Homo sapiens: one gene and its partners. The protein of the gene in region 1 purifies or fractionates together with the protein of each later gene. This does not show direct contact. Each region holds a gene or a part of one and is shown on either strand. Other genes may lie near its edges.

Region 1 (8,963 bases):
CACCTTTACTCCTTTCTGAACCTCAGAGGGAGAGATCATATGGAAAACCTGGGCTCTGTTCCTCCCCATTCTTCACTTTGAAGCCAGCCATTTTGGGTACCCTCTGAAGTACCTCTATCTCAATTTACCCTCATCCCTTGGGCCTCAACCCATACTCCCACCAACTCTTTGCACAGTTCTTTCACCCCAAGGCTCTTGGATCTGGATCTGGCCCCTGGACCTCCCACTTCATCCTGCTTCAAGCTCTGCATGTCACTGCCTTCACTGCCTCTAGCCTTGGGAGAGCTTTGCCCTCACCACCCATGCCTGTTGGCCTCAAGACCCTTTAGACTCAACCCCCCTCCAAATTCACCCAATCCAGATCTTTCACTCTGAACTTTTCTTAGTAGCATTTATTGGGTATTTACTATGTGCCAGGCACCATTCTAAGTGTTTTACATGCATACCATTAACTCATTTAATCCTCACAACAACCCTGTGAAGTAGGTATCATTATTGGCCCCATTTCACAGAATGAGTTGAGTTCTCCAACTCAAGTATGGAGAACCTAAGGAATTTAACCACTGGGTCAGGATTTGAACCCAGCCTCTCCAAACCCTGACTCTGCCTGAAAACTCCTCTGTTATTTTCCAATCCCATGGGACCCATTATGTGCCCAGAAGAATGTCTTGGGCAACCACACTACCTTTTGGTCTGGAGACCTTTCTATCCCCAGCCTCCCCCTACCACCACGCAGGTGAGGAGCCAGCTGAACGCGTACCTGCGTGTGCTCCTGGGGCCCTGGGAAGCCAGAGAAGGGACCATGGCCCGGTGGGACGGCCATGGTGGGCTCAGAGGGCCGCAGGGGAGCGAGGCCTGGAGCGGGAGCCCGGCCGGGGGGCGCCTTCTTGCATCCTGCACCTCGGCTGCCACCGCCGCTGAGACCTGAGAGCAGACAGGAAGTGGGAAAACAACATGGAACAAGGGGATATGTGAATAGTGCCAGGCGGGGAAGAGTGGACATGAGAAAGACAGGGCACAGAGAGAAGAGGAAAAGGGCACAACGGAGCAGCAGATAGCAATGAAGAGAAGGGGCAGAGAAGTGGTAGCCAGGTGGGGGGGGATGGCACAGCAGTCCCTCGACAAATAATGATCAAGTAAATGATTAAGGCAGCACAAAGAGAACACATAAAAGACAATGATTGGGGGCCAAGCAGGGGTCGATATGAGCCATCACAGGGAAAGGAGGACAGGAAGACACCAATAATTCAGAGGAGGAAAAGAAAAAAGAAACCACAGACAGTATGCAGAGGAGTAGGCTTCATTCTTTTCTCACTACTCGTGGCCCTCCCCAGGGCCCCTAACACAAGATGCCACTTTCTGTAGTCTTCCCTGAACATCAGGATCTCAGCCCGTAGCACAGCCAGGGCCAATACTTTAAGATCTATCCTTCTCAGTAGATTCCCTCAACCCAGAGAACTCTAGGATTCCCAAACCACATGAGTCTTCCCCTCCCAAACCACAGCAGAGTCCTCTGCAGCCCTAAAACCACATCAGCGTCCTTGGGGACCTCCCAACCACACCAAAGTTATCTGAGAACCTCTATAGAACAGAGTCCTATCTCTACAGCATTCTCATCCACCAGGGCACGATTTTCCTAGGGGACCCTCTCCATATCATGCCAAGACCGCTTCCCTATTTCAGGTCCTCCATATTAGGAACCAGCCTTCCAGGTAGTCTCCCTGTACCATATCCCAATTCCCCCTACCACAACAGGGTTCTTCCCCATATTACTCCAATATCCCATCCCAATCAAGGCCCACTCCTCCTGATGGGAGAAGGAGGAGGTGTCTCTTCCCACAGTTTAGAGTGATCATCCTTTTCTCCCCTACACTGCTTCCTTGCCCCCCTACACACACACACACACCCTAATATTCCTACCACAGACCTTTCTCCAGGCACCCCTCTTTATACCAGGGTCATTCCACAACTGTGTCCACTCCTAGAGGGCCTCAAAGTCAAATCCCCAAGTTATCACATAGGGTTCTCTCCTCCCAGAGTTGTCAGCTACAGCAAAAATCTTCTCCCCATGGGCCACTCTCTCCCCCATGTCAAATCCCTTTCTCCTATTCCATGCCTTGCCACTCCACGACTCCTCCACCCTTGGAGCTTCCCCCAAAAAACCACCTCTTCTCCGGGGCCCTCCCACACCAGGATCATCTCTCCCAGCCCCCACCCCCTACCCGGGTCAGGGCTGGCGCGGGGCCCACGGGGGGCTGGGGCGCGGTGGGGCCCCCAGTGGGGTGGGCGAGCGGCCAGCATGGCGGCGGTGGCGGCGCTGAAAAGGCGACCGCCTGTCTCTGGCCCGGCCGGCCCCGCGGCGGGGAGGGCAAGCGGGACAGGAGGCCCGGTGGGTGACAACAGCAGCCGCCACTGCCACCGGGGGCGGGGAGAGGAGGGGACAAGGGTCAGCCCAGGGCACGCGGGGGAAGAGTAGAGCAGGTGGACGGGGGAGGGGCGACACGCCCCACCCTGAGTGACCACCAGCCCCTAGGGACCCGGCGTCCCGCCCCCCACCCAGGAGGCCCTCCTGGGCCTGCTGAGACCGGAAGGCGGGGCCCGACTGAGCTTGGCAATCGGCACCTGCCATGGCAACAACTGTACCATTGGTCGCTGGTGCCAAGAGCTCAGCCAATCACAGCCTAGGGCAGCTGTTGCTAGGCGACGAAGAAGCGGCCCGCGGAGCTGAGCCCAAACAAAGGGCGGGAGTGGGGCCCGGCTACCCCCTCCCAGCCTCCCTCCTGCAACTGCTTCCTCGGGCTTGGCCGGTTCCAGGAATTCAACTATGAATAGCCAGGCAGGGCCCGCACCTGCCTGCCACCCCCCTCCTCTCCTCCCTTGGCCTCGTGCTAAGTCTCACGGCGACGGGAGCAGGGCGGATCCCGTCCTGCCCACCTCCCTGCGACCGCTTGCCGCCCCACCCGTCCCCGCGCCGTTACCTGAAGGAGCGGGCAAGGGGACTCAAACTGCTCGGGGAGCCCGAGCTCAGACCTGCCCACTGGCTGAGGGTATCCGGCGGACGCGGCAAGCCAGGGCCCCGATTACCCAGTAATGCAACCAGCAAAATGGCGACCACAACAAACCGGCCCCCCCACGCCCTGGACTCCGCCCCCATCCCTCCCTCTCCGCTCCCCTCACGTGACCCACACTGACACTCCGCCTGCGCGAGATGGCCGCTTACCTGCACGCATGCGCAGCGAGCTACCAATCCCACCCAAGAACCGAAATCCAGGCTGCCGCTGCGCAAAGGCAGCTAGAAACGGAGCATGCGCTCTGTGACCGAGTGAGAATTTACCCAACCCCGCAAAATTGACCAAGGGTGCGTGCTCCCTGTGTCAGCAGGTCAAGGGGAGGAATGAGCAGCAGACATGGGAGACGGATGAGTCTTTTAATAGAAAAACACACGTGCAACAGTATCAACACACATCTCTCGCAATCCTGACAGCGCTGAACTTCAGTTCTTCACCTTGGGGGGTGGCCTGTGAGAGGAAGATAGGTGATGAAGGAGGGTCCCCAGGATCATGGCACTCGGGGTGCAAGGGACAGAGATGTCTGTCTTGGTGTATTGCTGGGCCCCTGCTCACCTGTACACTCCCACGACCACGGCATGGTCTCTTTCATATGGCTCAAGGGTCAACTGCTCCTGCGGCTTCATGTTCTCCTGTTGCATCTTTTTCACTTCGGAGGCAAACACGGCCTCGGCTGAGGCTGTGGAGTCAATGCAGTTGGCCTAAAGAGGAGAAAGGACTAATGTCTACAACAGGGCTTTGGGCTGTTTTTCTCTTGTGTGCTCTTTAAACCAGATGTTTTCATTATTAATTCAAGTAAAACTCAGTGCTATGGTTCTAGTGTGTCCCCCAAAGTTCATGTGTTGGAAACGTAACCCTTAAATGCAAGAGTTGAGAGGTGGGACCTTCGAGAGATGATTCAGGTCATGAGGCCTCTGCCTTCCTGAATAGAGTAATGCTATTATCACAAGAGTGGGTTGCTGATTAAAAGGATGATTATGCCCCCTTTCTATCTTGCTCTCACCCTTCTGCCAATGGATGACAGCAAGAAGGCCCTCGCCAGATTCAGACCTCCAATCTTGGACTTTCCAGCCTTTGGAACTGGGAGCCAAATAAATTTCCATTCATTATAAATTACCCAGTCTAAGGCTGGGCGTGGTGGCTCACGCCTGTAATCCCAGCACTTTGGGAGGCCGAGGTGGCTCAATCACGAAATCAGGAGATTGAGACCATCCTGGCCAACACGGTGAAACCCTATCTCTACTAAAAATACAAAAATTAGTCGGGTGTGGTGGCGCACACCTGTAGTCCCACCTACTCGGGAAGCTGACGCAGGAGAATCGCTTGAACCCAGGAACTGGAGGTTGCAGTGAGCCGAGATCGTACCACTGCACTCCAACCTGGTGACAGAGTAAGACTCCATCTCAAAAAAATAAAAATAAAAATAAAAATAAATAAATTACCCAGTCTATAGCATTCTGTGATAGCTGCATAAAATGGGCTAAGACACTCGGGTTTAGGAAATGTGATAAAAGGCTTAATGAAAGTTTTTGGCTGGGTGCAGTGGCTCGTGCCTGTAATCCTAGCACTTTGGGAGCCTGAGACAGGCAGATTGCCTGAGCTCAGGAGCTCCAGAGCAGCCTGAGCAACATGGCAAAACCCCGTCTCCACTAAAAATATAAAAGTTAGCCAGGTGTGGTGGCACACGCCTGTAGTCCCAGCTACTTAGGAGGCTGAGGCAGAAGAATTGCTTGAACCTGGGAGGCAGAGGTTGCAGTGAGCTGAGATTGCACCACTTCACGCCAGCCTTGGTGACAGAGCGAGACTCTGTCTCAAATTAAAAAAAAAAAAAGTTTTTAGTTTTGTTTTGGATTTGAAGCAGGAAGCCTTAAACAGTCCTATTTATCTAAAAGCCAGTGCTTAAATTTTATACCCAGGAATTGTTTGGCTTATTTCTACTTCCTCTTCTTTAATAATAGTAATAATGCAGTTGAGAATAATAAAACAAATGTAGCAAAAGGCTAACAAATGGTGAACCTTGTGAAGGGTGCATGGGAGAGTTCTCCATTATTTCCAAATAAAAATGCTGTGAAAGATGCACCTAGCTTTTATCTAGTATCTATTCTATGCCAGGATCTTTTCTAAACACTTCATATTATATTGACTAATTTGATCCTGTCATCTACCCTGAAAAAGACTAGACAATATTTCTATTTCATAAGTGAGGAAACTGAGGCATATAGGTTAAGTAACTTGCTCAGTCACACAGCAGGCTGGGATTAAACTCAGATGGTCAGACTCAATTTTGCACTTGACCGCTGCACTCTCCTGCCTCTTTAAATCCAAAGCTATAGTTTTGCAGACTTGGCCCCTCTGTTTTGGGTGGCTATTTGACAGATACAGATAGAGAAGATACCTCCCTAGAACACTGCCACCCCATCTTAGACTCTTCCAAACCCCGCACCTTAATGGAAATCACAAAGTGTCCTCCATTACGCAGGAAGGTGTGGGCATTCAGGGCCACAATCCGGGTCTGGTCTGGCTGGGCCACATCAGCAAAGATCACATCCACCATTGCTAAGGAGAAAGGAGCAGCAGTTAAAAGTTGGAGTCACAGGGATCACCCCAGATCCTCCCATGGGGCCTATGCCCATCACCAGCAGGTTCCTGGGAGATTCTCCCTGCCTCCAGTTTCACTCCCCACCTCCACTGGTCCCCCTCCCTCCAGTGTCCCAAGATGAGTCCAAAACCCACAGTCACATCATTCATCCACTCTTCTTGTAAACCATGGTTGCCACCTACTCTGTGGCCAGCCCTGGGCCGGGCGTGGGGGACATAGAGACGAGTCAGACCCGGACCCTGCCCTCGAGACGCTCCCAGGTCTGGTGGGGAGACAGACACGTCATCAAAAAGACAAGTAAGAGTGAGTGAGCACTTATAGGCAAGAGTGTCCGCAGGACTGTGAAATGAAAACAAGTTGCAGAACAAAGGGGATGGTATGAGTGCATGGGAAAAATAAAACACAGAAAGAAAAAGGAGCAGAATGAAAAATAATGTTTTTAAGCCAGTGTGACTTTTCAAAAAATGAAAAGGTGGTATAATGAAAACTGATTATTTAAAACCTGGGAAAAGCAGACATCAAATTGTTCTCATCAGTTACTTCTGGCGGTGGTTTATAAGGCTTTTCAACTTTTATATTATATCTTTGAATGTTTTTTTAAACAAAGTAATTAATATTCACAGTGGGCCCCTCCAGATCAAGCCATGCTTAGTTTTCTGGGATATGCTCTCACCAGACAATGATTAGGACCCCCAAAAGGAGGCTTTTTATGGAGGGGTAGTGTAATAAATACAAGAGGCAGGAAGTACAGGAGACCTAGGAGATGGGGAGGAGACTGAAGGAGAAGAGGTTGGCCCTCCAAGGGTGGCTTCCAAGACTCTGAAGCCAAGCTGCCACCTCCACAACCTCACCTAGCTCCCCTTACCCCTTTCTATTCCTGCAGACTCAAGAGGTCTGCTCATCCACTCCAACTCCATCCGAATCAGAGATCCACTGGCTTCTTCCAGAAGCCTGCGGTGGCCTGTCCTACCCCACCGGGGCCACCCCCAGACCCCTCACCGATGAGCATGCGGTATTTGTGTGGGTGTCGAGCATCCTCGATCACAGGAATGATGTTGGTCCTCTTCTTGGCCAAGTTAATGAGGTCACGGCCAGAGCGGTGGGAGAACTCGACTGCATAGACTAGACCATCCTAAAATAAATTAAAAATTAATGAACAGTGATGCTAGTTCTCATGCATGGAGTGCCTACTTTAGGCCCATACACTATACACAGCATCTCTTCCAACCCCCAAATCAAAACCCTACCATCTAATGACTATTGCTATCATGTCCATTTTTCACATGAATAAACTGAGGTCCAGACATAAAGTCACTGGCCAAGAGTTATTCAGCAAGTAGCAAAAGTACCCAATCCCATCTGCCTGAGAGCCCAGGTTCCCAACAGAGGCTTAAAACCAGGAAGCCAAGGCACAGAGATGATGTAACAATGGGCCAACCACTGCTCTAAGCACCTTTCAGAAATTAACTCATTTAATCTTCACAAGTCTATGTTCCAGACAGGTAAACTGAGGCTTGGATGGGTTAGGTAACTTGCCTGATTAAAGCCTGAGGTTTTTTTTTTTTTTTTTTTTGAGTCTCACTCTGTTGCCCAGGATGGAGTGCAGTTGTGCGATCTCAGCTTAGTGCAACGTCCGCCTCCTGGGTTCAAGCAATTCTCCTGTCTCAGCCTCCCAAGTAGGTGGGACTACAGGCACACGTCACCACACCCAGCTAATTTTTGTATTTTTAGTAGAGATGGGGTTTTACCATATTGGTCAGGCTGGTCTCGAACTCCTGACCTCAGGTGATCCACCTGCCTCGGCCTCCGAAAGTGTTGAGATTAAAGGCATGAGCCACCTCGTCTGGCCAAAGCCTGAGGTTTTAAGGCACTACACTTAACAGCTTATAAACACATAAAGTAACAAAGGGTAACAGAGTGGGACACGTGGGTGCCAGGGGCCCTCTAAATGGGAAGCCTATACAGGCTCAGAAACCATGAAGATCTCCTGGTTCTTTCTAAAGAAACCAGAAGAGCAGGTTTTAGCAGCATAAAATTTTAAAGAGGCCCATCAAATCAAATAGTCTGGTATCTATACTCCCCGTTGTCTCTCTAAGGTTGGTCACCCCACACCCACGTCTCTTCCCTTGAGGCCAAGAACCCAGGAGTGAGGTTGAATGACATTATCTGGTTCAAGCCACTCCTTTTACTCACAGGCACAGTGACAGAAAAGGGCCTGGCCCTAAGTCACACAGCGCAGGCAAGCAGTCAAACCCTGATATTCCAGGTTGGCAGAAGGGAGGCAGCCTTTACCTCCTGCCTGACTCTCCATCTACTCACTCACCGGACCAACGATGTCAGAGACATGGGAGACCGTGGTGCCCGAGGCAGCCCCGAGGTAGAGAACCTTAGCCCCCGGTTTGATGTGGATCTGGTCCACACCACCCAGGATTGCTGCTGCTAGCTTGGAGCGGAAGGGGTTCCAGGCTCGGTACTCAATTTTGTCATCTCCTTCCTAGATGAGAGATGGGGACAGAAGTCAGTGCTAGGCTCTTCTGCAGGACCTCACTGCCTTTAACCCTAGGAGCCTTGAAAGGAACTGGGCTGTCCTATCACTGCACAAGAACTCAACATGAGTAAAGAGCAGTGACCATGCACATGCAGTCGCTGCCCTCTCATGGAGGTGACTGACCCAAAGGGCAGCAAAAGAGAATAAACACAAACAGTAACAGTAAAACCAGCACTTGTTCAACAAACATGCACTGTGCCAGCACCTACTGTGTGCCAGACCCTGCTCTAGGCGCTGGGGATACAAAACAAGGATCCCTGCCCAGAAGGTGTAAGTATTCACCGAACTAACTAAATACAACATGGCATATGAGATGGTGACAGGTGTTAAGGAGAGAAGACAAAGCCAGGAGAGAAGATACGGAGTTTGGGAAGCAGGGCAAGGAGCAGGTGAAAATGGGAAAAGGGGCCAGGGAGGGGCTGAAAGGCAGATTCCAAATCAGACCTGAAGGAGGCAAGGGGCCATTCAAGTTATCTGAGGAAGGACATTCCCACGAGAGGGAGAGCGATTAGGAAGGCCCCAAGGCAGGCACACCCTGGCCTCAAAGAAAATGACACAGGATAACAGGACAGGGGAGGGCGGTGAGGGATGCCTTGACCCGCAGAGTGGTGTGACGCAGCCTGGAGAAGCAGATGATAAGGACGCAGCCTCCCACAGAGCTGGGAGTGGGAACAGCAAGGCCAGGGTGGCTGGAGGACACTTGGTCAGAGAGTTAGTGAAGGAGACAAAGCCAGGGGGCAGGGAGGGG
Region 2 (7,730 bases), on another chromosome or scaffold:
CCAAACTCCCAACTGCTTCTCACAGCCTTTGCTTTATACATCCTCAGCCAATCCCTCAGTGAGCCCCAACCTCCCTATGGTCTCTCAGGCCCAATTAGAGGCAAATAAACACTTCCTGGCAGGAGTGGAAGACAAGCAAACTATTAAATGCTAAACACCCCTTCTTCCCTCTCAAGCAGGTCAAAAAGGCTGGGCCTGGATCTTGTAAGAATTGGTTTCCTGCAGTCACCTTCCCAACAGCAGTGCTGGGGTGAGCTCACCCATGTCTGCTGGGGACTGAATGCCACTTCTGTTGCAGGTCTGCCTCAGTAGATGCTGGGGACCAATATAGGGCCTTCCTACCTAGTCTATGACTTAGAAGGGCAGAGGGTGAGGGGAAAAGGGTCCCATCAGCAGAGGAGAGAGAGAGAGAGCCCCTCAACCCTGCTTCAGTTGCCCATGTGCTGTGTGCAACTCTACTCAAGAGGGCAAAAGAGGCAGGTGGAATATAGCCTGGACAATCTGATGAGAAAAAAAGGCCAGCTCAGAAAAAATATGGTGACACCCCCCACCTGCATTCCCCAATATACTAGATCGAGCTAGTGGGGAGGGGGTGGGGCTGAAGAAAAGATCATTAGCTGAAGTCACAGCACTTAAAACACCCTGCTGTACCCCAAAATGAAATCCTTTGCAGAGTCGGTGATGCTATGGATTACAAGCCTGGTTCCAGAGCTATTTAGAAAAAAGGAAAACTTGGTGCCCTCCTCTTGACTCCTTGAGCAAACCCAACATCCTGTAAAAAACTCAAGATCCTGGGGGTATCATGATACTCTGCTGTTAAGGAGCAATTGCCTTCCTTCCCTAAGGCTACGCAAACACACCTTTCCACAAGTACACTCCCATGCACGCACACACTCTCACGCAGTTTCTCTGAGGAGGCTGACTCAACCCCCCACCCTGGCCAAATTCTAAGACACAAGTGCCCTTTGAAGCAAAGGGGCTAGTGAAATTCCCCGAGCTGGGGTCGGCAGACCCCTTCCTTCCCTGCCCATTGCTCTCTTGGTGGCAGGGATACTCACACTCAGGGCCGCCATAGGAAGGGTCTGCTCTGGGGCTGTCCCTCCCGCCACCAGCTCCGTTTATCTTGTCCCGGCCAGTCTCTTGGCATGGTCGAGCTTGCTGGAGCGAGAAGATTTCCAGCTGCCCTGAGTCGGAGCCCTCCACTCACCCCCATTCCCAGGCTCGGCCCCCAGCCTTGGGGACTCGACACTTGTTAGTAGCCATGAGAGAGTCAGTCTGTGTGGCCCCAGGAAGTAGCCTCTCAGTTTTAGTTTTCCTCAATCAAATTCAAGTCCAGGTCCCCAAAGTCCCGCTGGCACAGTGTCCGCTTGCTCAGCGCCTGCCGACCCCACCGCACAGCCCCCTCCTCCTCCTCTTCGCTTTCACTCAGCACCTGGGAGGAACCCCCAGTGGGGCTGCAGGAAGCAGAGAGGGGTGGGGGGCTACAGGCCATGAACCATGGTGGAGAGATGCTGCTGCCTTCCCGGGCTGTTTCTTGGAGACAAAGACCTCCTGAGTATGGTTTCTGTCAAACAAACAAAGAAGACAGTTACACCTGAAGGCAAGAATTCTTTAGGGTGAGGTTTGTAAACTTTTTTTTTTTGAGACGGAGTCTCACTCTGTCACCCTGGCTGGAGTGCAGTGGCGTGATCTTGGCTCACTGCAAGCTCTGCCTCCCGGGTTCACGCCATTCTCCTGCCTCAGCCTCCCCAGTAGCTGGGACTACAGGTGCCCGGCCCACGCCCGGCTAATTTTTTATATTTTTAGTAGAGACGAGGTTTCACCGTGTTAGCCAGGATGGTCTCAATCTCCTGACCTCATGATCCGCCTGCCTTGGCCTCCCAAAGTGCTGGGATTACAGGCGTTAGCCACCATGCCTGGCGTTTGTAAACTTTCTGACAAAATTTGGAGCCCATTGTTTCCATTGAATTGAAGAATAGAAGCTCCGTGAGGGCAGGAACATCATCTGCAGTGTTTCATTACTTTGTACTGCCAGTGCCTAGTCAGAGTCAGTAAATGTTTGCAGATGGGATGGACGACTGTATGAAAAAATTAATTAATTCTTAAAGAGGTTTGTAACCTAGTGGTCTAGAAAGAATAATATGAAAAAAGTGAGCAAAGTGCATACATACAATAATTGTACTCACACCAGGAAGTCAAAAAACATTTGTCTAACAGATGAATACACTGTAGCAGCCCATCTTGCTTCAGCCCTCACAGACCCACTTTGAAGCAGTGACAGGCAAGTGGCAAAAACAGCTTTGGGCACAAGGAGTAGGTACTGATGGAATTTTTTGCAGCTTGTGCATTCTTGGAAAGGAGGGAAAGTACCTCTTGCAGGACAATTTGGGATCTCTGTTGGAAGGTTTAACATGGGTCTCACCCCAGTTTCTCTAACTCCCAGGATTAAGGCATTTCACAGGATGGGGGGACTTTCAGTGCTAACACTGGGACAGTCCCAGGCAAACTGGGATGGTAGGTCACCCTAGCTAAGAGCTAAAGGAGGTGCTGTTGGTGGTGGGGGCGGCAGGGTAATGAAGCTAGGGGCTAGCTCAAAAGTGGAAACAGAACAGTCCCCACACTCCCATCTAAGCTCCCCTAGTCTTGCTGGTCCCACCTGATTCATCTTGTCAAAGTCCAACGAAGGCCGCAGACGCCGGGGGTCTTCCTCGTGGCGCCGCTTGACCCCAGTTTTGCGGGCATCCAGATCACAAGGCTGTGAGCGGCTTCGGGGAAGGTTGCGGAGACCTCGAGGTCGCCAGGGCAGCTCTGGGGAGGATGCGGGAGAGCTCCGGGCAGAGGGCAAGAAGCGGCTTGCCTGCGGGCCCAGACTGGGTGACAGGGAGAAGCGGCGCTGAGGTGGGCAAGGTGACAAGGACTCAGCATCACTCTCCCAGGAGCCACTTTGAGGGGAGGCGGCGCAGGGTCGAGAGGAATCTTGGGCCAGGGCCAGGCTGAAGAAAGGAGGGCTGTAGGGTCTGTGAGCTGGGGCACATTGAGAAGAGGCACTGGGAGCTTGGAGGAACCTGAGGCTGGAGACCCGCTTTGGGGGGCTCTGGTGAGGCACCTGCGGCCCACCCCCTCCACCACTGCCCCGGTGCTTTATGGGAGTCCACAGCTTGGAGGGGGCGGGCCGCCACACCGGCTGCCAGCGAGACAGGTCCACGGGCACTGAGAGTGAGCGGCAGTGCCTCTTGGATGGAGGGGCAGGGGGCACAGGAAGCTTCTCTGGATCTGGGGGCTCAGGTCTTAGGACTTGGGAGAAGGGCTGCTCCTTGGGGGAGTTTCCCCGACTGGGTGGTCTGAGGTGCAGGCTCAGGCCTGAGGGATGGTAGCTGAAGTTGAGGCTGTCCTGGAACTCAGCACAGGAACAGTGGGGCAGGCCCCTCCAGGAAGCACCTTCTGGAAGGCATTTATAATAAGAATAATATTAATGATAGCTTACATTTTTTAAGAACTTACCATTTGCCACATAATGTATGGAGCATTTTATGTGAAAATTTCCAAAAACCTTATGAGGTAGGTAGTATCGTTATCATTATCCCCATTTCACAGATAAGAGAAATTCAATAACTTTCCCAAAATCACATAGCACTCAAAAGACCAAAGGAGGATTCAAATCCAGGTCTGTCTGATGCGAAGGCTAGGTTTTTAAACCACTATGCTCTATTGCCTCCATTGTGACCAACTACCTGGAATCAAAAACATTTCATCTACTGCCTGCCACTCCCTCTCAAAGGTAAAAGAAGTCAAGAGAAACAAACACGTTTGTGAGTGTCCTGCTCATCTCTCCCTCGCCCCTCCCCCACGCTTGCCCTGGATGCTGAAAAGCAGGCCTATGCTCTTCTTTCTCGGCCTTTCCTCCTCTCATGTGTCAACAGCACCAAGTCAGGAGTTAGGACTGCCAAGAAGTAAGAGGTAATCAGGCAGGTAAGAGATCACTTTTATTCCTAGGGAGGGCAAACAGGGTGGGGAAGGCCTTTGACAGTGAAACCTGGGCTTGGGAAACCCTGACTTTGTGCTGCTCATCTTCGTTTCTGTCTGGCCACCCACATATTCCGATTCCCTTCCCCTAGGCCTTCTCTTAAATCCAAACAGATGGAGGGACCAAGAGAAGGAAGGGAAAATGGACTAAAAGAAACAATCCTCACTCACTGTATTCCAACCAAAATTGTGACTTTTGGGAGACGGCTCATTAAGGGACAAAGGGCCTAATCCAAACTCCTCTGGCTAGCTGGCTGGAATTCTGCAGGGGCTGGATATTTGGGGCAAACGACAAGTATACGAAGTCAGACTTGATGGTGGCAAAATTCATACTGAGTGTATTTGGTCTATAGTTCTTCCCTCTACTAACCACTATGAGGGCAGGGACCATGAGTTCCTGCTCTATACTTATGACACAATACCTGGCTTTCAGCAAGTCTTTAATAAACAGGAGGAAGAGACTGAATGAACATGTTTTTGCCAACTCACTTCCCTTGCTAGGTATCCCAGAAAAGAAAATGAGATGCAGAACTGCTGAGCAGCACGAGTTAGGGAGTTCTGATTGTCCACCAGTGATGCCTCCATCTAAATGTCCCTACGATCAGGGGCCCTTTAACTCAGTAATTAATAATCTACGAATTTATACCTCAGATATATTTTCACATGTGAAAAAATGACATATGTACAAGGTTATTCACTACAGTTTCTTTTTTCTTTCTTTTTTTTTTTTTTGAGATGGAATCTCGCTCTGTTGCCCAAGCTGGAGTGCAGTGGGTGCGATCTCGGCTCACTGCAACCTCCGCCTCCTGGATTCCAGGGATTCTCCTGCCTCAGCCTCCTGAGTAGCTGGGATTACAGGCGCCTGCCACCATGCCCAGCTAATTTTTGTATTTTTAATAGAGACGGGGTTTCACCATGCTGGCCAGGCTGGTCTCGAACTCCTGGCTTCATGCTATCTGCCCACCTCGGCCTCCCAAAGTGCTGGGATTACAGGCATGAGTCACCACGTCTGGCCCACTACAGTTTTATGTATCCAAACAAGATTAGAAATAACCTAAATGCACATCAATAGAAAACTCATTAAATAAGCCACTGTACATCTATGCAGTGTAATAATATGTAGCTATATATAACAAGGGAATGAATACTCAGCATTCTGATAGGGAAAGATCTCCTAGCTATATTAAAGTTTTTTTTGTTTTTTGTTTTTTTTTTTTTTGAGATGGAGTCTTGCTTTGTTGTGCAGGCTGGAGTGCAGTGGCATGATCTGGGCTCACCACAACCTCCACCTCCTGGGTTCAAGTGATTCTCCTGCCTTGCCCTCCCGAGTAGCTGGGATTACAGGTGTGTACCACCATGCCAGGCTAATTTTTGTATTTTTAGTAGAGACAGGGTTTCACTGTGTTGGCCAGGCTGGTCTCGAACTCCTGACCTCATGATCCGCCCACCTCGGCCTCCCAAAGTGCTAGGATTACAGGCATGAGCCACTGTGCCCAGCAATTTTTTTTTTTTTTTGAGACAGAGTTTTGCTCTTGTTGCCCAGGCTAGAGTGCAATGGCGCAATCTTGGCTCACCGCAACCTCTACCTCCTGGGTTCAAGTGATTCTCCTGCCTCAGCCTCCCGAGTAGCTGGGATTACAGGCATGCGCCACGACGCCTGGCTAATTTTATATTTTTAGTAGAGATGGGGTTTCTCCATGTTGGTCAGGCTGGTCTTGAACTCCCGACCTCAGGTGATCTGCCCACCTTGGCCTCCCAAAGTGCTGGGATTATAGGTGTGACCCACTAGGCCCGGTCCCATTTTTTTTTTTAAAGGTACAAAATAATATATAGTATGCAACCTTTTGTGTTAAAAACGTGGAAATAAAATAGATGCAGCTAACCACCATGGCACATGTACACCTATGTAACGAACCTGCACGTTCTGCACATGTATCCGAGAACTTAAAAAAGAAAGGAAATAAATATATACATTTGCTTCTTTTTATATAAAGAAATTCTAGTCACATATACTGTATAAGAAACTAATACTTTTAGGGAGGTGGTAGAAGCTGGGTAGATAGGGAACGGGAGAGTAAGAGAGACTTTTCTCAGCATAACCTTTTTGTTGTTATTTTTTAAATTTTGAACCATGTGAATGTATTACCTATTCAAAAAATTAGATTATACAAGTCCCCACAAAGCTAGAATAAGAGCAAACCAACCAGATAACTTTCATGCTAGAACATGAAAGACAACTGTCAATCTCAGAAGTTGACCCTGGCAAGAAGGTTCTAGAGGTAGGCTCGCTAGCCCTGGTCACTGGAAACCAATGATAGAAATGTGTGGAGAGAGGAATGGGTACACACACGTACACAAACACACACGATGCCTTACCAGACACAAGCTGGAAAGAGTTCCCACAGTTGGAGATGTCTGCATGATCAGGCAAAGGCTAAGAAAGAGAGAATATCCATCATGATTTGGATTCAGGACACACTGACAGATTTCTAGGAAGCCCTCTTCAGTTCTCCTCTGCGATTCATGAGCTACAGGGATGTTAGGGACATTAAGTGTTCTTCCTCTTGTCTTCCCAAAGTTAGTAAGTCAAACAATCCACATCTTCCAACATCTCAAACCCTTCTCCACCCAAGTTTTGCTGTCCCTTCTCTATCGGTGGAAAAATCCCTGCCCCCTTCCTTTTGGGCTGGGTTTTGAGCCATTAGTGGGCTCTTCCAGGTTAAGTACCATGATTCATACAGCACAGGACAAGAGTAAAGTAATAGCAACAATCAGCCTCAGAAAAAAGGGGGAGGGGGTCGTGGAGAAGCAGGAAGACTGGTCTTTTACCAGACTGATGCTGAAGCGTGTGCATTTCAGCTCATCCAGAGTCTGCTTCTGTAGCTGCTCAGTGATCAGGGTTATCATGATTCTCCCCAGGATTTGACTTGCACACTTTGGAGCAAATGATGGATGTCTTCCCTGTTGTTCTTCCAGACCTCACTTGTGAGCCGTCTTCTGCCACTGCAGCACCATTCTAGCACCATTGGGACTTCCCTCTCCAGTCATGCCTGCTGAGTCTGCCAATTAGAGGGACCAGCCCCAAGTGATATTAGAGATGCACCTGGTCCAGAGATGGAAAATGCATGGCACACATACCACAGCACCCCTAAGCCAGGCCTCTGGCAGACATCAATTGATCACAGCTCTTTCCAGCTAAGCCTAAACACAGCTTCAGAAATTATGAACTTGGCAGTCCAGATATGAAATAAAATAGAGTTGGCAATCAAGTTGAAACTTATTTGCTACCCTTAAACTGGTTCATGCTCTGTTGTTTCTAACTGGAATACCAGCACCACTTAGAAAACAGCTGCTCAAGTGAGAGAGAGGGATGCCCAAATGATTATTTCCATCAAGATCAGCCCAGTATTTTATCTTCCAGTCAGAAGTGAAAAGAGGTACCCTTCTCCTAAACTACAGAAATAGTAATAAGAGAACAAGGAAGAACAGTGGTTGTAGGCAAGACTTTCTGCTTTAGACCTGAGTACATAGGATTTTATGTCCTCCCACAGCCTAAACATCTGATATATTATTGTTTTCCAATAGATACAGTGTTTGTTTTCTTATCAAATGGGAAGATAAAGAAATGGTCAGGGTAATTCCAATACATTTCAACTCTACAGACGTCGTAAACAACAACTCCATGACTGTTCAACTAAGTTTTTAGC
Region 3 (7,730 bases), on another chromosome or scaffold:
ATTCCCAGAAATAGTCTCTAGACTGAAAAAGCCCACAGAGTAACCAGCACAGTGAACAGAAAACAAACAATGAAACACCTCACAACAAGGCAATCCTCATTTCAGAATGGTGGTAACCCTTCCACAGAGGACAGACACCATCACCAACAAAGGATTAAGAATCAGAATGGCATCCAAATTCTCAACAGCAATTCCAAAAGCTAGAAGATGAAGTGCTTTCAATACCCAGTGGAAAAATTATTTCCAACCTACAATTCTAATTCTATACCCAGTCAAACCGGCAAGTATAAAGACATCACTGAAGATATTCAAGGTCTGGGTATAACATATACCTCCCATGTATCCTCTCTCAAAAAATTATTGGAAAATGCACTCCAGCAAAACAACATCCAGAAATTAGAGTATCCAAAACAGGAGAGAAGTGAAGAGAATTCCCAGGGAAGTTCCCGGTTCTAATAGCTGTGCCACAGATGTAGAGATCAATGAGCTAATTTGGAATATGAGGATGAGGGACTCCAAAAGACATATCTCCAAGGAAAATAAACAAAAGTAACTCTCTGCTATGTTTTTAATTATTTACAGGAAGTTTCCATTATCAAAACTTTCTTAGGGATAAATTTGTGATAGGTACATAGAAAACGAAGCAATCAAAATGAAAAACAATTTTAACCTCAAAGACCACAAAAAGTTATTTAAAAAGAAAATATAACTGTAGTATCCAACAAGGCTCTACTGTAATCAATATTTACATGGTCATAATAACATTAATACTGATTTAACCAAAAGATGCTACACCTACAATGGAAGGATTCGGTAGGATGGTGATTAGAGAATTAAGTGTACATTTTCCACAGTAGCAAGTCACTACATAATACATAAAACTGAAAAAAAAAAAAAAAAAAAACAAAAAAAAAACAGCTCCTAAAGCAGTAGTATAGCATATTATTTAGAAATGTGTAGGCCAGGCACGGTGGCTCACGCCTGTAATTCCAGCATTTTGGGAGGCCAAGGCGGGTGGATCACTTGAGGCCAGGAGTTCGAGACCAGCCTGGCCAACACGGGGAAACCCTGCCTCTACTAAAAATACAAAAATTAGCAGGGAATGGTGCTACACACCTACAATCCCAGCTACTCAGGAGGCTGAGGCATAAGAATTGCTTGAACCCAAGAGGCAGAGGTTGCAGTGAGCTGAGATCCTGACATTGCACTCCAGCCTGGGTGACAGAGCGAGACTCTGTCTCAAAAAAAAGAAAGAAAGAAAAAGAAATGTGTAGGTAAACAGCCAAAGAAACCTCTAAGAGTTGAAAGTGGTTGTTTCTAGGGGGCAGGAAGAGGGAGTGGAGAAAGATGTGACAAGGGAACATTTTATTTGATAATAAGTTCAGTGCTATTTGACATTTTAAATTATGCACACGTAGTTTAAAAAAATAAATTTAAATTTAAAAATATAGTATAAAGACAAGCATGCTATTTTTGCCTTCAAGTAGTTTGGAAAAGGAAGTAGCTTACTTTCTCAACTTCCTTCCCTTCTACTGCTGATTTACCTATCATCTTAACCTACGCCCTTACCTCTTCCCCTCCTCAGAGAAAAAAATGTCCTTGTTTCTGAGATTTCCAGACTCTACCATGTACTGGATCCCATGCCTCTCGCATTTTCCATAACCTTGCTCCATCTACATTTACCATCTTCTCTTGAATTTACAATCTTTCATTCTATAAATCCTTTCCCTAAAAGCTATAAACAAGCTGAAGTTTTCCACATCCTGTAAATAACTGAAGCTTAAGCACACCCTTCACCCAGTTTTTTCACTTTCCTTCCGTCCACATTAAAGTACTTTATACTCATTACCTCTACTTCCTCATCCTCCACTTTGATTTGTGCCCCCAACATGCTTCTCAAACTACTTTCTCTCACAGATCATTGACTAATCTACATGCCAGATTCAAAGGCCTATTCTCCAGGCTCAGCCTACTTCACGACATTTGAAAATCTTTCCTATCTCTCCTTGAAATACAATCTTTCTTTTCGGCTTTCTCAACACTATTCTACCATTTCTCCTCCTACCACATTTCACAGGTTTCTTCACTGGCTTTTCTTTCTACCCTTAAAAATGCTTGTTTCCTCCCAGAGTTCTATCTTCAGCATTTTCCCTATCATTTTATCCACCCTAGTGATTAGTCATTTCGAGTGTTGCCCACATGTAAATGCCTAGCATGATGTACATGTTAAATGAATGTTTACTGAACTGCAATAAATGAGTCCTAATTTTTACCCCCAAGTTCAAAGTGTATCCCTGAGTTTTAAAATGTTATTTGCCACAATCTAGAAAATTATCTGAAGTTCCTGAGAGCACAAACCAAATACATCCACAACTGAGTTCATTTTCTTTTCCCAAATCTGTTCTCCTCACTGTTATCAATTAGAACCACCATCCAAACTATCACCCTCAACTCCCCGTTTCTCAATCCCTACATCCAACAGTTTGCCAAATCAGTCTTTTCAATCTTTTTTACTCTTGCCATTCCCACTGCCATTCCCCCAAAATTCAGGTGATCAATGCCTTTGTGAGTTTCTCCTATCTCAAGTCACACTCTACTCATTTTATATATATATATATATATATTCTATTTATTCTAAGAATATAAATACTAGTAATAATAACTGTGAGTGCCTAAAGCCTTGGATGAGAAGGAAGACAATGATGTGAAAATATCTGGCTGGGCGTGGTGGCTCACGCTTGCAATCCCAGCACTTTGGGAGGCCGAGGCGGACAGATCACGAGGTCAGGAGTTCAGGACCAGCCTGTCCAATATGGTGAAATCCCGTCTCTACTAAAAAAAAAAAAAAAAAGTACAAAAATCAGCCGGGCATGGTGGCACACGGCTGTAGTCCAGCTACTCAGGAGGCTGAGGCAGGAGAATGGCTTGAACCTGGGAGGCGGAGGTTGCAGTAAGCCGAGATCACACCACTGCACTCCAGCCTGGGCGACAGAGTAAGACTCCGATAAAAAAAAAAAAAAAGAAAATATCTGCCAGGCGCGGTGGCTCATGCCTGTAATCTCAGCACTTTGGGAGGCCGAGGCGGATGGACCGCCTGAGGTCAGGAGTTCGAGACCAGCCTGGCCAACATAGTGAAACCCTGTCTCTACTAAAAATACAAAAGTTAGCTGGGCGTGGTGGCAGGCGCCTGTAATCCCAGCTACTCAGGAGGTTGAGGCAGGAGAATCGCTTGAACCCAGGAGGCGGAGGTTACAATGAGCCAAGATCTGCCATTGCACTCCAGTCTGGGCAACAAGAGTGAAACTCCATCTCAAAAAAAAAAAAAAAGAAAATAAAATATCTAATATTGAGATTCCTATACCCCACACACAGATTACAAAGATTTTATTCCTTGAAACAATTATCTACGGTAAGTATCATTAGTATCCCCTTTTTACAAGTAAAGTGAACTTGCCTAAAGTTAAACTGCTAGCAAGTAAATGGCAACTCCAGGGTCTGAACCCTGACAGTCTGGCTCCAGAGTACATACTATTAACCATGGAATACTTTCTAATGTATATATTCTATTCAAAGTCATTCTGAAAACTTACGTCTCTCCCTTCTTTCTCTACTATTTCCGCTCTCCCCATCCCAACACCCTATTACCCTACATTTCAAGCCACAAAGAACTGAATATGATAGGCTTATTTTCACACCTCTAAGATCCAACTGCAAAGTTCTGTTCTTCCCTTTGTAATCCAATTCAAAATTCATCTCCTCTGAGGGAACCTCTATACCCATCCCCTGTGGAATTATTCACTCTCTAAGCCAGAAAACTCATCACATTATATGCTTATGTATCTGTCTTACATGGCTAGTTTGTGAGTCTCTGGAATTCCTTGTGTGTTTTACATCTTTGTATTACACTGTTAATAACACAGAGTAGTTCAATCAAAGCTTACAGAATTTAACTTAATTAAATGTAAATTCTACTAGCCAAGACATAAAACTAATAGTTTCTACTTTGTCTCATCTTCATTGCAAAATATAGACATCACAAACCAAAAGAATTCCCTTTAGCCGGGTGTGGGTGACTCGTGCCTCTAATCCCAGCACTTTGGGGGGCTGAGGCAGGCAGATAGCTTGAGCTCAGGAGTTGGAGAGCACCCTGGGCAACATGGTGAAACCCAGTCTCTACCCAAAATACAGAAAATTAGCTGGGCATAGTGGCATGTACCTGTAGTCCCAGCTACTCGGGAAGCTAAGGCGGGAGAATTACCCGAACCCCGGAGGCAGAGGTTGCAGTGAGCCGAGATCGTGCCACTACACTCCAGCCTGGGTGACAGAGACCCAGTCTCCAAAAAAAAAAAGAATTCCCTTGAATGTGTAATGTTAGCAGCAATCCTCCAAATGTTAGAGAAACACTAAATTCTTAGAGACATATTTCATAAGGTACTAGAAAGTAGACATCAAAGATGACACAAATATAAGTTCTGGTTATCTTGCTTCTTGATTCTGCCTATTAGTCCAAAGAAGTTATCACTTTTTGCTGCCCTTGGCACTCCCCAACTCCAATAAACAAACGAATTTATACACAACTTAATACATCCAAAGGAAGGGGGAAACTAGCAAGAACACGACTTGCCATATATATATATATATATATATATATATATATATATATATATATATATTTTGTGGTGGTGGTGGTGGTTGTTGTGACGGAGTTTTGCTCTTGTTGCTCAGGCTGGAGTGCAGTGGCACAATCTCGGCTCACTGCAACCTCCACCTTCTGGGTTCAAGTGATTCTCCTGCCTCTGCCTCCCCGGTAGCTGGGATTATAGGCGCCTGCCACCACACCTGTCTAATTTTTTGTATTTTTAGTAGAGACAGGGTTTCGCCATGTTGGGCAGGCTGGTCTCGAACTCCTGACCTCAGGTCATCCACCCACCTTGGCCTCCCAAAATGCTGGGATTACAGGTATAAGCCACCGTGCCCGACCAAATTTTTTTTATTATACCACACACCCTAAGTAATTCTGATACAGATGAACCACAGACTACACTTTGAGAAACACCATTCTGGATGTTCACAGGCAATGTTATCACCAATTTGAAACTTCATACAACCATGAAAACTGAACCTACACTGGTAATTTATGTTAAATACACTAAAACTAGAAGCAAAACTAATATGATACACAACAGCTAACTTTTATACTGAGGTACTGTGCTGTTTTTCAGTTTTCCCTTATTTAATCCCTACTATCATATGAAGTAGATTTCACCACCCATTTCACAGATAAGAAAAATAACTTTCCATATCACATGGCTTCTAGTTGGCAGAACACAGGTATTAAACTCAAACTGTCTACCCAAAGTATATCCTCCTCACCTCGATGTTATACCATCTCTCCATTTGTAATCTATTTGACATTTTAATAAGTAAAATGAAGTTGGGTAAAAGGAGAGAAGGCACAAAAATAAACTTTCTGGTTAACACTGTTGCCTAGGTACCTTTTCTAAACATACCTCAGTTCCTAATGACAAACGGCTTTGCTATGGAGATGACAGTCACTGAAGGTGGGAAGTTTAAAATATCTGTCAGGGATGGGTGCTTGGATTACTTTATAGTAGTCAAGAGTAGGAAGTTCTACACCAGCCAATTAGCTCTAACCCTAGAAGAATAAAGCAACTGGATAGGGATCTTGATACCTTCAACTTAGGGACTCTGAGATACCGGATCCCTAACAAAGGTTACAGCATCCAGTTCATCTGATAAGACACCTAGAAGTCAACAGCCTGATCTAGATGGACCCTGAAATTTGAGTCCTATGAGGTTTATAGAATTATATGGGGTAGACCCTTACCCTTTACGGTAGGGATTTTTACATTCATCACAGCTGCAAACTGGTGGTAGCCTCCCTTTAATGAAAAAGGGACTCTGACGTTTACAAAGACTTTCCTTCCAGATTTAGTCAGATAAAAACAGCAAATGATTTCATCGTAGTTTTGTGTGTGTTATGAACACCTGAAATCTGAAAACACTTTGTTCTACTCTGCATGGATATTTACTAGAGTGAAACAACAATTCCTGGGAATGAAACTATGAGACATTCAAACTAGAGTATGACTTAATAACAGACAATATTTCTCACACCCAAGTGAAAGTGCTGCACTAGAAAAATAAGAGTTTTTATTTTTCTAGTTGGCGGAACACAGGTATTAAACCTGACCTCAGGTGATCCACCGCCTCGGCCTCCCAAAGTGCTGGGATTACCCCTGTGAGCCACCGCGCCTGGCCAAATTATTTTTTATTATACCACACACCCTAATTCTGATACAGATAAACCACAGACTACACTTTGAGAAATAAGAGTTTTTATTTTTCTGGATTTATTTATTTATTTATTTATTTTGATAGGGGAGCAAATGGGGATAATTTTACAGCAAATACTCTACGGGATGATCTAGGGAAGGGGAGCGTTCAAAAACCATGAAGAGAGGACATGGGAGTAGCCTGACATCCCAGGAAATAGAGCCCTCCTAGAGATCAGAGAAAAAGAGTACCTTCCTCCACACCTTGCCAATACTTAATTCAACCCAGTTCTCCTCAGGGTGTTTCTCTGAGTGTCAAACAGTTGTTAAGAGAGCCAGATTCTGTTATCAGACTACAGGCTGTGCCTCCTTCTGCCACCTCTACTGCCCACTTATAAGCCAGCTCCTTCCCTTCCACCTGATGCACTATGCTGGCTCCAGAAGGCTGAAGGACTGAAGCAGTTTTGTTCATATCTGTAAGAGTTACTTAACTAGTGGCTGGGCGCGGTAGCTCATGCCTGTAATCCCAGCACTTTGGGGAGGCCGAGGTCGGCAGGTCACCTGAGGTTGGGAGCTTGAGACCAGCCTGACGAATGTGGAGAAACCCTGTATCTACTAAAAACACAAAATTAGCCAGGCGTGGTAGCGCATGCCTGTAATCCCAGCTACTCGGGAGGCTGAGGCAGGAGCATCGCTTGAACCCGGGAGGCAGAGGTTGCAGTGAGCCAAGATTGCCCCATTGCACTCCAGCCTAGGTGACAGAGTGAGACTCCATCTTAAAAAAAAAAAAAAAAAAAAAGTTACCTAACTAAGTACATGTAATTTTGGTGTGCTATATATTTCCCACATTCTATCTTACACATCATGATGTCACTTCCTTGATATAATATAAAGACATGGTCTTTGGAGTACAACTGACCAAAGTTCAAATAAATACCAACTCTGCCACTTGTTACTTAACCTCTCTAAAAGCTATAGTGAGGGTTAAATGAGATTTTGCATAAAAACCACCTGCCAAATAGTAAGAGTTCAGTAGGTGACAGAGGTTATGAAGCAGGGAGGGGAAATCTAGTACTTTTATCACAGTTTTAGAAAAGCATTCTGCATTCTCAAAAGGTTTAAAATAGTGCTCTGGGCTGGGCAATCCTAGCACTTTGGGAGGCCAAGGCGGGCAGATCACATAAGGTCAGGAGTTCCAAACCATCCTGGCAAACATGGTGAAACCCCATCTCTACTAAAATACAAAAATTAGCCGGGCATGATGGCGGGTGCCTGTAATCCCAGCTACTCGGGAGGCTGAGATAGGAGAATCGCTTGAACCCAGGAGACCATGGTTGCAGTGAGCCGAGATCACATAACTGCACTCCAGCCTGGGCAGCTGAGCAAGACTCCGTCTCAAAAAATAAATAAAAATATAAATAAAAATAAATACAT

The links.
Region 2: the proteins of DYRK1B (region 1) and FAM53C purify together in Homo sapiens (affinity purification with mass spectrometry; 5 studies listed by BioGRID and IntAct, with this or other methods). This does not show direct contact.
Region 3: the proteins of DYRK1B (region 1) and FAM117B purify together in Homo sapiens (affinity purification with mass spectrometry; 4 studies listed by BioGRID and IntAct, with this or other methods). This does not show direct contact.

Annotation. Positions count from the first base shown.
Region 1 is NC_000019.10:39,831,045-39,840,007, forward strand, and holds the start of DYRK1B (dual specificity tyrosine-phosphorylation-regulated kinase 1B), read right to left. Parts: upstream 3,119-8,963; 5' UTR 2,979-3,118; intron 2,605-2,978; exon of another isoform or gene 2,302-2,604; coding exon of another isoform or gene 2,223-2,301; intron 2,136-2,222; exon of another isoform or gene 1,928-2,135; intron 925-1,927; coding exon of another isoform or gene 824-924; coding exon 761-823; intron 1-760. Other genes in the region: FBL (rRNA 2'-O-methyltransferase fibrillarin), read right to left, coding at 3,494-3,518, 3,624-3,769, 5,512-5,624, 6,667-6,799, 7,991-8,161.
Region 2 is NC_000005.10:138,340,536-138,348,265, reverse strand, and holds part of FAM53C (protein FAM53C), read right to left. Parts: intron 7,083-7,730; 5' UTR 7,050-7,082; coding exon of another isoform or gene 7,002-7,049; 5' UTR 6,931-7,001; coding exon 6,853-6,930; intron 6,458-6,852; coding exon 6,400-6,457; intron 3,442-6,399; coding exon 2,657-3,441; intron 1,565-2,656; coding exon 1,307-1,564; 3' UTR 1-1,306.
Region 3 is NC_000002.12:202,637,239-202,644,968, reverse strand, and holds part of FAM117B (protein FAM117B), read right to left. Parts: intron 1-7,730.